Linked DNA regions of Homo sapiens. The protein of the gene in region 3 purifies or fractionates together with the protein of the main gene of each other region. This does not show direct contact. Each region holds a gene or a part of one and is shown on either strand. Other genes may lie near its edges. The genes, in order: PPP1R12A, ADNP and PHF7.

The links.
Region 1: the proteins of PHF7 (region 3) and PPP1R12A purify together in Homo sapiens (affinity purification with mass spectrometry; 3 studies listed by BioGRID and IntAct, with this or other methods). This does not show direct contact.
Region 2: the proteins of PHF7 (region 3) and ADNP purify together in Homo sapiens (affinity purification with mass spectrometry, with the first as the bait; one large-scale study listed by BioGRID). This does not show direct contact.

What each region holds. Positions count from the first base shown.
Region 1 is NC_000012.12:79,805,999-79,809,654, forward strand, and holds part of PPP1R12A (protein phosphatase 1 regulatory subunit 12A), read right to left. Parts: intron 2,580-3,656; coding exon 2,485-2,579; intron 1,333-2,484; coding exon 1,228-1,332; intron 336-1,227; coding exon 168-335; intron 1-167. UniProt on the Homo sapiens protein: Key regulator of protein phosphatase 1C (PPP1C). Mediates binding to myosin. As part of the PPP1C complex, involved in dephosphorylation of PLK1. Capable of inhibiting HIF1AN-dependent suppression of HIF1A activity.
Region 2 is NC_000020.11:50,924,875-50,928,530, forward strand, and holds part of ADNP (activity-dependent neuroprotector homeobox protein), read right to left. Parts: intron 1-3,656.
Region 3 is NC_000003.12:52,417,070-52,420,725, forward strand, and holds part of PHF7 (E3 ubiquitin-protein ligase PHF7), read left to right. Parts: intron 1-2,763; coding exon 2,764-2,865; intron 2,866-3,241; coding exon 3,242-3,366; intron 3,367-3,656.

The DNA.
Region 1 (3,656 bases), on a different chromosome or scaffold from region 3:
TTCCCCCAGACATGCATAATTGCCTCATTTTGGAACCAATTTTTGTCTGCAAATAAATTTAACAAGATAAATGAAAAAATCCAGAGCCCCACAATCTTCTAAACAAAAACGCATGCACATACATAAGCACACAGTAGACCTGAGCACAAAATGTATCTGTGACTTACCTGCTTTGTGTGCCTGCTGAGGAAGAACCCGTTGTAATCTTTGTAGTAGTGCTTGTGCTGGAAAGCAGGCTTTTCTGAAGCCCAGCTGCAGAGGTAACTGTTGGTGTTGATGTGGTGCTTGGAACACTAGAACTAATCAAATCATCTTGTCTTCTACCAAAGGAGCAACTAAACAAAAGAGTCATATCTATATAGGATGTGTTTGTATGTGTATTCTATAGTTAATGTCTATACATTATATAAATTACAAGGCTAGAAAAAAAATTTAAAAACTGTGTTCCTAAATACACCACCAGCTCCAGCACCAAGAGTTGCATCTACAACTTGCTAGAGTTTAGAAGATTTCACTTAATTCGGTAGTGTATCATTTTAGTGCCTCCTCCCAACTTTCTCAACAAGACAAAGATGATCTGATATTTCATATTTTTGAAACTATTCCACACCATATGGTCATGCCAGGCTGAGCCTGAAAAACACACTTTGGTTTTGTATTACCCAGGGAAAACAAGACGTTGACATTTTTTTGAAGGAAATTATTTCAGCAATGGGTCAGATACCTCGGAAGTAACCAATGCCTACATGATACTTGTTCACATCTTATTCTTTTTGGTTGCTTTTAGTAAAGAAATTGTTTATAGGGCTTTTTTTTCCTCTTCAATATGATACTACCAACATTCCAACTGAAGGCATTTCCATAGCTCTGAGTTCTAGGGCAAGCCAAATCTTTCCAGATCAACAATGACAACTAGATCCATTAAGACACTGGCCTGTTTAAGTTGTTCTAGTCAAGGAGTTCCTTCTAAAGGAGTTCCTTTTAAATATGTAACAATCCAAAAAACATTTCATAATATTTGAAGCTTAATTATATAATAGGCATAACAAATTATCACCTATCTTTAAATATATATCCTGTGTTTAGAGTAAGTTTTAAACAACAAAAACTCGTATTTAATAAAAACACATATTTGTTTAAAATGATGTTAAACTGAGGGCTCCAAACAAATTGCCTCATATTTTTATAAATGAATACATAAAAACCGCTTAAGAATAGTATTATTACCTTTTATGATACGTTGATCCTTCATTAACTGAGCTATTTTTTTTAAGATCATCTTCCCATTTTCTCCTTGTATATGAACTACTTGTTCGCAAACTTGAAGAATCTCTGTTAAAAGAACACCCTTCAGATTCTGGTACATAATTTTAAAATAGGATTAAGAAAGCGGTACACTAGTAAATATTAGTATAAGCTGAAACTAGTAAAAACCTTTGGGAGGACACTTAGGAATACTAATCAAGAAGATAAAGTAATTTCAGTACTAAGATTATATACCCTAAGGTATAATTTTTCCCCTAAGTATGGGGGAAAATTCAGATATTTATAGAAATATGCTTTTTGATCACAAAATATAAAGTAGGGGAGATGCTTACTTTAACCGCAGAAGATCTACTTTATAGTATGTTATGTGCCGACAAAAAAAATGCTTATTAAAAATATATATTAACATAGAAGACTGCTTATGAGATCTTAGGGGAAAAAAATAAAAAAATTAGATATTATAACATGATTAAAAGTATATTAAAAAGTTATTGGCCGGGTGCAGTGGTTCACACCTGTAACCCAGCACTTTGAGAGGCCGAGACAGGTGGATCACAAGGTCAAGAGTTCAAGACCAGCCTGGCCAAGATGGTGAAACCCTGTCTCTACTAAAAATAAAAAAATTAGCTGAGCAGGGTGGCAGGTGCCTGTAATCCCAGCCACTTGAGAGGCTGAGGCAGAGAACTACTTGAACCTGAGAGGTGGAGGTTGCAGTGAGCCGAGATTGCGCCACTGCACTCCAGCGTGGGTGACAGAGCGAGACTCTGTCTCAAAAAAAATAAAAATAAAAATAAAAATAATTAAATTAAAAAAATAAAATTCTATAAGCTGAAAAACAGGAAGAAACTAAAATATTTAAACAATATTTAAACAAAAATATTTAAAACAAACTAAAATGATTAAGTAAGGGCTTTCCTTCTTCTTTCCCCTTTCCTAAATGTTCCAAATATTTAGAGAACTCATACTAGTTCATGACCTTATCTCCTCCCACTTTCCCCTTACTCTGTTCCAGCCACATCTTCTTTGCTATTATTTCATGAACATACCAAGCCTGCACCTCCTCAGGACTATGTACCTGGTATTTTCTCCTTCAGGAATATCCTCCATCTCTTCCCACAATACATATCCGCACATAATTACAATGCTCATGTATTAACTCTAATGCTAGATAATAAAGATTTTATAGTGAATGCATAAAGCAAATCAAAATAAACTCACCTGTTTTCTTTCTCTTCAATGTCAGATGTACTGGCTAGTCGTCTTGGTATTGTAGGTGCAACATATGCAAGCCTAGTTCCTTTACTATCTTTCTCCTACACAACAGGGAAAAAAATAAGTAAAAATTAATTTGGGTACTGACTATAGGCAATGCTAAAAGTATTAAGAAAAGGTTATTCAATAATTATAATTACATAGCTATCATAGTTTACAGTATTTCAACAATTCCTAGCTGAACTCTAAAATTAATGTCAATCAATAATCAGCCTGTTCAAATTAGTTTTCTTTCTCTTTTAGCCTGGAATCAGATAATATTTTACTAAGAAAGGAAAAAAATTTCTCCAGATTTTAATGACTTTTTCTAAAACTTCTCTAACAGATTAATACTGTGTCATAAGCTGAAATATCTTTATTTCTTCCAGAGAAATAAACTTTCAAATATTGTTCACTGAGAGGTCTCAAGCATTTATATTATATAAGCTATTTAGAACCTTGATAATCAATGCTCTCAAATACATCAAAATAGTCAAAACAAATATTATTTAAATTATATTTATCCAAATATGGCTAAGAGTGTGTAGTGACAATGACACTCTGATACATTCCTAGTAAGCTGGCATAAAATACCTGGAAACCAACTGCACAGTAAACTGATAAAAAAGCAAAAATATTAGAATTACTTGATGAGAAATTTCATCTGAATTTCTGATATAAGGAAACATTTCTAAGTATAGAAAGAAAACTGTATGGGCAAAAAAAATAGTTCAAGCACTGAATATGCTGTAGAAATAAATACTAGTATTGAATAAACTGTGGTACATCCTATATAATGCAGTATTAATACCACCTCTCAAAATAGTTATTAAATTTACTCATTAAGACAAAGTTGCTTGTAATATGGTAGATGAAAAATCTGGTATTTTTTTTCAGATACTGAATAAATGTAACTTATGAGTATACTAACATTCTAGAATAAATGTGTTCCTATGTTTTTTAAACTTCAGAAAGTTTCTTGAATCATAATAAACAAAATAAGCCTGCTCCTTAATACAGTTCTATTATAAATTCTCAAGTAAGGTAATAGATTCCTTTAACGGAGTATAGTCCCATAATTTATGTTTTAGGCAAATACATCTGATCTTTCCAGTATTTATAATTCTGTATAAATTACA
Region 2 (3,656 bases), on a different chromosome or scaffold from region 3:
TTAAATCTTTAACTTAAATCTAAAACTGTGGCATATATTCAGAGCAGGCTTCCCTTTGTAAACTCCATCCAACGTTGTCTATGCTTTCCTCTTATTTTCTAAATCTTTATTTCCAGAACACTGCTGAAATTCTTGAGAGGTTCCAGGCTTTCTCTAGCTGCTGTCTTGGAACCAAGGTAGGGATCAATAATACCAAAGCTTGTGAGTGAAATCTCAAGGAACTCCTTAAGGCAGAGGACTGAATTAATACACAGAGATGACAGGACCCAGGACTAAAAACAGTAATATGAATTTTGCATTTTTCATTGATTAGAATAAAAAAACGTGTGCCCTGCAATCAAAACTGTCACTTTCCACAGTTGGCTCAATTTTTATCTGTGACTTCCTATACACACACACACACACACACACACACACTACATAATCAAGTTGGCTCATATATACCAACTTGAGAAGCATGATAATATGTGAGGAGAGCCTTCTCATTCCAGTGAAGCAGAATATGAATTCTCACTTAAGCTGACCCCAAAACTGGCAGATCGCAAAGGTAGGTCATAACATAACGCAGGTGTAGGGAGTACTAAGACACTGAGAGGATGAAGGAACATAATCATCCTCTCCTCACTTTCTAATAAACAGGATCAGACAAACAACAAAAAACCATGAAATCACAATGGCCACCCACAATGGGCAAAGCATGGACGGTTTATCAAATAAAGTATCTCAACAATCAAGGTGGAAAGTGCCAAAGTAAAAACAAGAAACAGCTTTTACATTCAAAGTATCAATTCAGTTAATTAGCATGGGGCTTTGGTTTATACTAGTTTCAAACACCGAGTTTCCAAACTAACAACATAGAAGGTGTTAACTGGCAGTGAGGTACATCAGCAAAATACGGCATTTACTCCAGTTACTATCACAAGCTCTTACAAAACTAGGAGAGGGGCTGGGAGCGGTGGCTCACGCCTATAATCCCAGCACCTGGGGAGGCCAAGGCAGGCGGATCACCTGAGGTCAGCAGTTCAAGACCAGCTTGGCCAACATGGCGAAATCCCATCTCTACTAAAAATACAAAAATTAACCAAGCGTTGTGGCAGGCACCTGTAATCCCAACCACTCAGAGGCTGAGGCAGGAAAATCACTCGAACCCGGGAAGCAGAGGTTGCAGTGAGCCGACATTGGGCCACCGCACCCCAGCCTGGGAGACAGAGCAAGACTGTCTCAAACAAACAAACAAACAACACACAAAAACTAGGGGAGGAAAAACTTTAAGTTTATACGATGCTAATAACAAGTCAAGCTCTGTGAATCCAACTATAATTAAATTATTTACACATAGGGGAGCAATGTTTCTCTTAATGTACATGCCTCTCAGTCAAGAGAATGAAGGTTAAACTCCCACTGAAAGTTATTTTACCTTATGTAAGACATAACTGACTTTATGATGCTCTTTTAAAAACTCCTTTGGAACTCCAGGTTGAACAAGTAGCTTATTTACACAACAGTCATGGGTACTTTGGTGTAAACCACAATAATGCTTCTAATGTTGTAAAATAAAAACTTCCTATTTTTTTCTTTCATATTACTTTAAAAATCTTTATTTCACTAAGATTTAAATAGGTTACTTGGAAAAAATACATACATAAAGTTTAATTCTGGTATTTTTTTACTACACTTAGATGTATTGTCCCCAAACTACATCTCAAAACTAAATGTACTTTCCCCAAACTACACGTGATACTTGAACTTTTCATCTGTATTTAATAATATGACAATCATTTCCAGCTCTAGAAAACCTACATATATTTTATATGTATGTGTACATACATACACACACCCAATTGTGAAATCAAGTGACCTAGGTCTATTGCAATTTATGCAGTTTTGTTACTTATATATGATTCTCAAAAGAAGAAACATAAATGCTGAAGTTTTTCTTTTTTTTACCCTATGAAGTATCAATCTCTACTTTCTCCTTTACAAAACAGCTTTATCTTCCTTATTAAGTTGCAATTTTCAAAATAAAATTTGTAGCCAGCATCATCTTATTTAATCAATAAACTTGAGTATTTTAGTTTTCAAAATACTAACTTTTTAATACTTTCAAAACGTGTAAGTAGTTACAAGGAAAGCAACAACTTCACATAGTATGCCTTATATACCTATACTTTTAATAATCAAATATAAATAATAAGCCATTTTTGCCTGATAAAAGCCTACTGGTTGGTTACTTGCAAGTGGTACCAAAACCATCTGTTCAAGGTTGTGAAGTTCTTATTTTAATATAAATAGTATTAAAACTCTTCCTGCACTCTGGTATAAGGAGAAAAAGATAAACTTAAGCAAAGCAAAGCAAATTCACAGTGGGCATGTATAAAATCAATGACTTCCAAGGTTGGAAGGGCCAAGGGTCATTAAGAGATTTTCAGCCCAATCTCCTATATTTTCTATACAGGAACTATAAAAACCAAAATCAAAGAGGTTAGTTTCAATATATAGCTCCTAATAAGCTAGTCTCAGGAAATTTTTCAACAAAGGCCAAGATAAAAAAGGAATTTCTACTTAAAGTTCAGTTAAACAGAATACCCATTCCCCACACTCTAGTTAATTGAACCTTTTACTATACTTTAATGAAGTATATAGTTTACCTACTATAAATTCCAGTCTTCAAGCCCAATTGTTTCACTTTTTTTTTTTTTTTGGTAGAGACAGGGTCTCATTATGTTGCCCAAGCTGGTCTTGAACTCCTGGCCTCAAGTGATTCTCCTGCCTCAGCCTCCCAAAGTTTTGGGATTACAGGCGTAAGCCACCTCACCTGGCCTCACCTTATTTTTTGAGTGTTAAAACCAAGAAACCTTTGAAACAGTAGAATACATGCTTTCTAAGAGCTCACAGCAAGTTTTCCTTTAAGGGAAAATGGCTGTTACCACTTAGGACATCATTCAACACTGTATCCCATTCGCTAAATCAAACAAAAGCCCCTCAACAAACTTCATTTCAAACATTCCGTCAAATAAGTTGTCTTCAAATTATATGGTCATTTTCAGAACTTAAATAACTGCATATAAAACACCAAATAAAGATAAAAACTATACCTGCCTACAAATACTATACAGTATTTAAAAATTTAAATAATCCCATTTAAATATGTGATTTTTCACAATGACTAAGAAATTGTAGAAGCAATGTCTCTAGTCAAATACCTGTACCAAAGGGCCTCCTTTTCACTCACCAAAATGTTACCTGGTAGCAATTCTCCAATGAAAAATTCTCCTGTTAAGCACCAACTGGTTAACTAGGTATCAAAGAATACACCCATTCAGTTCTCCATAAACTTATCTTGGTGTATTTATGTAACATACAAAGTCTTAAAGGTACCCACAAACATCAACCACTGTCAATCTTTGGTAGCAAGAACAAGTTCATGGAAAACCATGTTTTCATCAGACATTTAAGGCTTTTAGAAGCTTAGCAACTCTAGAGATTGGGTTATCAAAGTAATAGTAACTGAATACTTATACTTTATACAAAGGGGTGTAGAATGCAAATGATTACAATATTAGCATCTGTAAAAATTTCTCTTAAAAAAGCTGTAAGTAATTTCTTATGTTAATAAGTGTTCAGAACCCACTACTGCAACCAGCTCTAACCGGTTC
Region 3 (3,656 bases):
CTTTACCTACCCATAGAATTGCCTTGGTGCCTTTGTCAAAATCAATTGACCATATATCTGTGGATCTGGATAATCTATTTATGTCATTGATCTATGTATCTATTCTTACACAAGTCCCCACTGTCTTGATTATTGTGGCTTTATAGTATATTGAAATTCAGTATTGTTAAGTTCTACAATCTTTTCCAAGATTGTTTTGACTATCAGGTCCTTTCTTTATAAAGTTTATATTAAGCTTGTCAATTTTTCTTTAAAAAAAAAGTCTACTGGGATTGTGATTGGGATTGCATTGAATTTATAGGTCAATTTGGGAAGAATTGACAAAAAATATTGAACCTTCCAATCCATGGACATGGTATATTTTTCCACTTATTTGGGTCTTTTAAAATATATCTCAGCAATGTTTTGTTGTTTTGGTGACAAAGTCTTGTACATCTTTTGTTAAATGTATTCCTAAATATTCTGTGGTTATGCTATTGTAAATAGTATTTTTATTTCATTTTTAAGTTTATTGCTGGTATATAGAAATGCATTTTATTTTTGTATATTGATTTGTATCCTGTAATCTTGTTAAATTGAGTTTGATTAGTTGTTTTTTTATTTTGTTGTAAATGCCTTGTTACAGGATTCCCTATGCACATAACCATGTCATGTGTGAATAAAGACAGTTCTACTTCTTTCTCTCAATCTTTGCCTTTTATTTCTTCTTGCCTTGTTGTATTGGCTAGGACCTTTAACCTAACATTGAATAGAAGTGGTGTGAGTTGTTATCCTTGTCTTGTTCCCAACATCAGGGGACAGCATCTAGTTTTTCACTATTAAAGTATGTTAGCTCTAGGTTTTTTTCATAGATGTTTTTATCAGGTTGAAGATCCCTTTTATTCATATATAGTTTGCCCAGAGTATCATGAATGGGTGTTGAATTTTCTCACTTTTCCTGTATTTATTGAGATTATCTTGATTTTTCTCTTTAATTTTGTTAATGTAGTTTGTTACATCAACTAAATGCTCTAATGTTAAACTAGTCTTGCATTCTTGGTATAAACTCTACTTGGTCATGATGTATTGTCCTTTTTATATGGTGCTGGATTCAGTTTGCATCTGTTTTGATTTTTATATCTGTGCTCATGAGAAAGATTGGTCTGTGATTTTCCTTTCTTGTAAGTCCTATCAGGTGTCAGGGCTTAGTTATAATTTTGATGTATTTACAAGCATATACATTTTTTACATAAAAATTAAACATTATACAGAGTGCTTTGTATCTTGGCTTTTTTCCATCATATATATTTTGGAAATCTTTCTGTATAGAACATATAGATATAGTTTTTTCTTTTTAGTAGCTAATTTATTAAATCAATACATGCTTATTGCAGAAAACATGAATGATACTTAAAAATATGAAGAAAACAAATCACTCATCCCAAAGCCCTGAGATAATTAGTTTTAAAATATGTGTTTCAAAAGTTCAATTCCTTCCCCCATAATACAGAACAACAACAATCAAGAGATATTAAAACCCTGTTTTTCTTCCTGTATTACTCTGAGAAGAGTATTTTCTCTGTACTAAGAGGTGATGCAGCAGGAAGGGTAAGAATGGGGATTCCATGGGCCTGGGTGTGAATAGCCAGCTCTGCTCCTCCTTGTCCTATAACCCTGGGAGGCAGTGTCACTTGCCACACTGCACCTCAGCGGCCTCCTCTGTAAGATGAGCATCATAATAGCATCTGCCATTACAGGAATTTTTTTTTTTTTTTTTGAGACGGAGTCTTGCTCTGTCGCCCAGGCTAGAGTGCAGTGGCCTGATCTTGGCTCACTTCAACCTCCGCCTCCCGGGTTCAAGCGATTCTCCTGCCTCAGCCTCCCGAGTAGCTGGGATTACAGGCGCGCACCACCATGCCCTAGTTTTTGTATTTTTAGTAGAGACAGGGTTTCACCATGTTGGCCAGGCTGGTCTCGAACTCCTGACCTCAGATGGTCAGCCCTCCTCGGCTTCCCAAAGTGCTAGGATTACAGGTGTGAGCCACCGTGCCTGGCCAAGGATTGTAAGCATAAAATGAGTAAATACAAAGGAAATGTTTCCCCCAAAGTCCCAGCACACAATAGCAGCCCTCAGTAAGTGAGAGGCAGCCTAGAGCAAAAGTAAGAGTCCAGGTTCCAGAGTTCTGTGGCCTTGAGCAGGTCGCATCATCTCTCCTATAAAATGAGGACAATAATAGTACCTACCTCCTAGGGCTGTTGGGAGGACTCAATGAGTTAATATTTGAAACCACTTAGAGTATTCAACACATGGTTGGTGCCATGTAAGCCTTCATTAAATAAATTACCCTGTCAATGCATATATATTCCACCAAGCTCTGTTCTTTTTTTTTTTCTTTTTTGAGACAGAGTCTTGTTCTGTGGCCCAGGCTGGAGTGCAGTGGCACGATCTCGGCTCACTGCAAGCTCCACCCTCTCGGGTTCACGCCATTCTCCTGCCTCAGCCTCCTGAGTAGCTGGGACTACAGGTGCGTGCCACCACACCCGGCTAATTTTTTTGTATTTTTAGTAGAGATGGGGTTTCACCGTGTTAGCCAGGATGGTCTCCATCTCCTGACCTCGTGATCCGCCCGCCTCGGCCTCCCAAAGTGCCGGGATTACAGGCATGAGCCACCACACCCGGCCCAAGCTCTATTCTTTAGCTCTCTTACCCTGTCCTTCTCCTCACCTCACTGCACTGTTTCACTGATCATCATTGTTAACAGCCTGGTTCTACTGCCCCCGCAGATCTTATCTAGTAAGCTGCCTCAGAGGGGCCAGTCCAACAGAGGCTTCCATGGATTTCTGCCTGAAGACATCAAAAAGGAGGCAGCCCGGGCTTCTAGGAAGGTTAGAATCTCTTGAAATGAGGACCTTGGGGTAGGCCTCTTTTCATACCTCACCCATCATTCCTGTTTCTGTTCTCTTCCCTACTTCCTAGTTTAGATGTCAAAGGACTCTTGGATTTTCCAACTAGTCCTTAAGTCCCATATTCCTCTGGGGTATGGGTGTCCTAAGTGAGAAGAGGGAGAAACATCTTGAGAAAATAGGAAAGAACTCAGTGCTGCTTGAAGCTCAGCTTCCGGGTGCCCCAGAGCATTCAGGACCACTGAAGATAGGGAATGGCTATTATTTCACAAAACTTCCATTTAATAGAAAGATGTGCTACACTGTGTGTGTTTGCATTTCTTGGGGTCCTGAGCACTGTCTGGGAACTCATTTGCAGATCTGCTTTGTGTGCAAGAAAAAGGGAGCTGCTATCAACTGCCAGAAGGATCAGTGCCTCAGAAACTTCCATCTGCCTTGTGGCCAAGAAAGGGGTTGCCTTTCACAATTTTTTGGAGAGTACAAGTGAGTGAGGGAAGGGAAAAGTCTGGCTTCCTTTTTGCAACTTATTATTCAGCCACTAATGAAATCAGAGTCCAGTTCTCACAAGCAGGCCTGTTTTGATTCACCAGTGAATCTGTCCCTCCATTCAGTAATAAGAAACAGTGTCTTGACTTGGAGATTTCACAGGGGGTTCTTCTTGCTTCCTGACCCCTCCTTAAATTACAAACAGCTGGGGTTCTTAGACAGCTGCTCAGCACTAAGTGGGGCTTTCAGGAACGAGAGGCTATGGAGACAGTCCTGGGAACTTTGCT